Linked DNA regions of Homo sapiens: region 1 is linked to region 2. A link means that fine-mapping ties the variant in region 2 to the expression of a gene that starts in the linked region. Tissue or cell type: breast. Region 2 holds a variant in brackets; the other region holds the start of a gene. All regions are shown on one strand. Distances are from middle to middle.

The links. PIP is the estimated chance that this variant, and not a neighbour inherited with it, causes the effect. A credible set is the group of variants that fine-mapping cannot tell apart.
Region 1: it holds the start of ABCA6, and the variant in region 2 is the best candidate, but not a certain one, in a credible set for the expression of ABCA6 in breast (GTEx, PIP 0.89).

The regions. Positions count from the first base shown.
Region 1 is chr17:69,140,443-69,143,215 of GRCh38, reverse strand. ABCA6 (ATP binding cassette subfamily A member 6) reads left to right here and starts at 1,321. Exons shown (of 39, transcript NM_080284.3): 1 at 1,321-1,471; 2 at 2,468-2,608. The coding sequence starts at 2,513. RefSeq lists a silencer at 1,134-1,428.
Region 2 is chr17:68,365,669-68,368,441 of GRCh38, reverse strand. The region is part of intron 6 of ARSG (arylsulfatase G); the gene reads right to left. Among named protein-coding and RNA genes, the nearest start is that of MIR635, 57 kb to the left of the region's middle. The variant G/A (reference allele first, on the strand shown) is at 1,241.

The DNA of each region.
Region 1 (2,773 bases), 770 kb before region 2:
CTAAATAATTATCATTGATATTGTAGCTGTGAATTTTAATACAATTATAAGAATGGCAGAATGAAAATGATTCCTAAAATAAAGTATAAAGGGTCTAAAACAATGATAACAACAAAAAAATTCATAAAAGCCTTAACTGTATTCCAGGTGGTTTAAAAGTAACTTTGAGTTTTGTTATATTACTATTACAAAATGTTAAGTGTTTATGACCTCCCTTCCCACACCCCATGAGAACTTTAGAACACCTTTATTAACGGTGTTTGTGCCAATTTTCAATGTAAAAAAAGTGGCATTTCACTGTTGACTATTTTTAAAAACAGAAGTAATTGCCAAGGAGAGAAATTTTATATATATATATATACACACACACACACACACACACACATTATATATATACACATATGTATACATTATATATATATACATTTTATATATATACACACAGGCACACACATATACACATAATAGTATCATGGCTGTAGTTGTCATTGTTGTTTAAATTATCTGCTTTGCTCCAGAAAGTTTCTCAGCTTTATGATTATTAACATCTGTGGATTGGGAGCCGTGTCAAATATTTGAGATTTCCCAATTCATGGACTTTGATTTCCTGTTTTGCCATTCACTGTGGCAGGTCAAGAAAAGTTTGCAACTCTTTACAGAGCAGAGAGAGACAGACTATGCTATATGAATTAAACATGTTTCAGTTTGTTGTAGTCTTCGTGCACAAAAATTTATCTGAATCTTTTTATATGTTTTGTAGACCTGGGCAAACCACTGGCTTATTTTGTTCATAAGTATTATGAAATCCTGTATCCACTGTGAAGAGGGTGGGAGCAACAAATTTGTTAAAAATTCTTCATTTGTCTGTCCTAGGAGTTTCTCCAAGGCGTACTATGGATTGCTTAGCTTTATTAGGAAAAAAAATCAGCTCCAGAATACTCTGCTAACTTAGTCTGAATTAGTTAAATATACAACTAACTGGCAGTTGTGTTTATTCATCAGTAGTGAAAAGAAAATAGATACAGATTTCTTATACAAATTTAACTGCTTTGTTTGGTTAGTTATTGTTTTTACTCTTTCTTGTTCCTGCCTCCATCTTGGTCTCATCATTTCTGAAGAACTAGTTCCATTTTCCTTGTTTACCGTTTTCCCCCTTATCCCTGTAGTTGAAAGGCTAAGTGAACAAACACAGAGTTTATTTTATTCCCAACCAACCACGGAACAGTCATTTCCTTGCAGAATAATTGGCTTAGGGAGAAAGAGACACAGAAAACAAAACAAGTTCATCATGTACAGCTTGGTCTGGCTACACCCCTTTTCAGAAACCAGGCTGTGTAAGAGCTGCTGGAGTAGGCACCCATTTAAAGAAAAAATGAAGAAGCAGCAATAAAGAAGTTGTAATCGTTACCTAGACAAACAGAGAACTGGTTTTGACAGTGTTTCTAGAGTGCTTTTTATTATTTTCCTGACAGTAAGTAAAGCTCTATTTTGTTGTGCTGTGCCAAATATGTGGGTGGACACTGCTAAAATCAATCTATTTTTCAGATGTTTCCCAATTCTTATGTGTTTTATGTTAAAGACCTAAGACTAAATTTTTCTGCTTTTTCCCAACCACTTTTTATTGTGTAGATTGTAACAGTAAGACATAGAAAAATGGAAAAAATTTGCTTCTGTGCTAGCTGAGGGAGAATTATCTGAATATTTTGATGTAAAAATATGAAAGAATTTCATTTTGAGGTTACAGAAACGAAAAAAATTGTGTTTCTTGATTTGCAAATCTTTGGGCAAAATTACTTTCCCGTGTGATTTATTTTTGCTTCTTTTAAAGCTAATTTTGTAGTTTCATTAGTTATTCAGGGACTTCTGAATTCAGAAAATTGAGAGAAATTGCTTTATTCTTCCTGTATCTCAGAATCAAGTTTCAAGTAGTTTGAGCCTGGATTATGATTTACAACCTATCTCTTTTCATAAAAGTTGATTCAATCTGAAGGTAAAATTACAAGAAAACACTTTATTGAGGTTGTATCTAGTGGATGTAATTTATTATTCAGACAAATTTAAGTAATCAGACTTTTGATGTTAATTTGATTAGCTCTGAGATTTCTGTTTCAATGTAAAGAACAAGAAATGGCTATTAACAGGATGAAATTAATTTAATCACTCTATTCATGTACTTAAAGTTCTCTCATACAAGGCCAAAAATGTGAAATTATAGGTTCTGAAGTTGAATTACAGCTTTTCCATTTCAGTACTCCAAGTTATTGCAAAATTGTGATAATAATCACTCTGCCTTCCCACCATCACCCACTCCCCTAAAAAGCTTAAGGTGAAATATTTGAGGTGAAATTTTACAGTCATAAATTATTGAAATAATATTTTAAATTCATGTTTACACTTTTTAAAGGTAGTAAATATTTTCCTCAACACTATGATCAAGGTTTTTCTTATTACACTTATTTTTTTCTAGGTTGTGTTCCACCATGATTACTTTCTCCTTCAGCGAATAGGCTAAATGAATATGAAACAGAAAAGCGTGTATCAGCAAACCAAAGCACTTCTGTGCAAGAATTTTCTTAAGAAATGGAGGATGAAAAGAGAGAGCTTATTGGTATGTTTAAAAATTTGTCTCTTTCCACGGTTAGCACTCTTACAGTGTTTCATTACCTACTGATTCTCTTATGTTCTCTTTTAATTAGTAGATGGGATTTATTGATTTTACCAGTTCTCTCTAGTTGTATTTGTTGAATTGAGAGACTGAAGAATAACATAAAAT
Region 2 (2,773 bases):
CCCCACGGGCTCAAGAAGGACACATTTATCCAGAATCTTCCAAGGAAATGTGAAAGCAATCTGGTTAGCCAATTAAAAATGAGAATTGTAATAACAGTTACTATCCCTTATCATTTACTGAGAGCTTATTATATGGGAATCACATTGTCTAGGTTCGTCCTCATCATAGCCCCGTTTTTCAGATGAAGAATCAGAAGCTTAGAGATTAAAGGACTTGCCCAGGATATGCAATTAGTTACATGTCCGAATCTTGCTCTTAACTGCCACACTGTAAAGTCTAAGGCACACACACACACCTTTAAATTTTATTTTGCAGCATCCAGACTATCCTGTCCATTCTCAGCCTCTCATTCCTTTCTTTCTTTTTTTTGGAGACAGAGTCGCACTCTTGTCGCCCAGGCTGGAGTGCAGTGGCGCGATATTGTCACACTGCAACTTCCGCCTCCTGGGTTCAAGCGATACTCCCGCCTCAGCCTCCTGAGTAGCTGGAATTACAGGTGCCCACCCCCATGCCCGTCTAATTTTGTATTTTTAGTAGAGATGGGGTTTTGCTACGTTGGCTAGGTTGGCCTCAAACTCCTGACCTCGGGTGAGCTGCCCTCCTCGGCCTCCCAAAGTGCTGGGATTACAGGCGTGAGCCACTGTGCCTGGCCAGCCTTGTTCCTTTCTAAGAGATAAATGGTTGTCTCAAGTTGATCACAGGAATTTCAAGGACACATATGACCACCAGGTAACATCTAGATCAGGGATCTGTCAGAGGCCTTGTTGTTCGGCTGCCTCTGTACTCATCCTGATTTCCCTGGAAAGTGCAGAATGAAAGGCTTGGAGGGAGCTGGCGTGGCTTCCAAGCAAAGGTCCCAGTCCTACTCCCAGCCAAGAGCAGCTGCAGAATCACAACGGTGGCAGGGACCTTCAGGGGGCCCCTCTCCCACAGATCCATCCATGGGGGGTCTTTCAGAGGACACCAAACAAGGGTATTGGGAGAGTACAGAGTCAACAACATTCTGGTGGGGGTAGATGCATGGCCCTTTCATACTAGTTCACGCAGAGATTCAGTTGGCCCCAGGGTTCTCCTTAGCTCACCCTGGTTTACACCACCTTACAGCCTTGCTCTATAGCCAACTGTGCCCTCAAATCCCCCCTGCACCCTGGCTCCCAGGGTCTGCCGCCTGGGACTGTGCTTGCACTCAGTTCTCTTTGCTATGCATAAAACCCTGGACACAAGTCCCAAGACAGGGGC[G/A]TCTGCCTTCCCCATTTTAATCCACACTTTCTCTGCAACATTGCTAGAGTTGTGTTGTTCAGGGCAGCAGCCACAAGTCACATGTACCTATTTAGATTTAAATTAATGAAAATTAAATCATATTAAAAGTTCCATGGCCCACACGCTAGCACATGGGTGGACCCGGAAAATATTATGCTAAGTGAAATAATCCAGTCACCAAGAAACAAATAATTGTATGATTCCACTTGTGTGAGGTACCCATAATAGTCAAATTCATAGAGAGAAGGTAGGATGGTGAGTGGCGGGGCACTGCGGGGAAGAAAAACTGGGCAGTTTATGTTTCATGGGTACAGTTTCAGTTAGAAAAAATGAAACAGTTCTGAAGATGGATAGTGGTAATTGTTGCAAAACAAAGTGAATGTTTAATGCGACAGAACTTTACATTTAAAATGGTTAAGATGGTAACATTTTATGATTATATATATCTGTATATATACATACCCACAATAAAATACACACACACACACACACACACACACACATACATAAATTCCTAGCCACATTTCAAATGCTCAGCAGCAGCAGGTGGCTAGAGGCTAGCAGCTTGGACAGTGCAGATAGAAAACATCTCCATTCTTGCCTAGTTTTTTCGTACAGCAATGATTTGCAGTGCCTGATGCCAACTCTCCCAGGGATGGTCATGTACAGTTGTGCAGGTTGTGGCCTGCATCAGGACATCCTGCTGAGTGAATGGGTCCTTATTTCCAGCTTACAATCTACTGGCTGGTTACCCTGCACAGGGCAGTGCCTGGCCAGTGGGGGTGGCTTTTTTTAATTTTCAGGTAGATTCCATATTGCAGTGGTGCCTAGATCTGGCTCAAATTTCAAGTATTTTGCAAACCAGTTGTTAAACATGGCCATTGCTAAAAATTCAATTATAAAAGTCCACAATTAAATAAATTTTATTTTATTTTATTTTTTTGCCAGGCGTAGTGGCTCACACCTGTAATCCCAGCACTTTGGGAGGCCGAGGCAGGCGGATCATTTGAGGTCAGGAGTTTGAGACCAGCTGGGCCAAGATGGCAAAACCCTGCCTCTACTAACAAATACAAAAATTAGCCAGGCGTGGTGGCAGGTGCCTGTAATCCCAGCTACTCGGGAGGCTGAGGCAGGGAGAACCACTTGAAACCAGGAGGCAGAGGTTGCAGTGAGCCAAGATTGTGCACTGCACTCCAGCCTGGGCGACAGAGCGAGACTCTGTCTCAAAAAAAAAATAAATTAAATAAATCAATAATATTTTTTGAAAGTAGTACATTCTCACCATTTATCACTTCCCAACTACTACATTCTGCTATGATGTAGGCTCATGGGGTTATTTACATCTATTGTATCTGTGTGGTGGAAATAACACACAATGGCTTGCTACTGCCCATCATTTTTCAATGCCATATTCGGTGACATCTCCATAGCTGGAAATCAGCCATGGTGAGATTGAGTATTTACACCTCAGGAATTGGCAAATGCTACAGACTGCAGCTGTTTTCTTAGAAA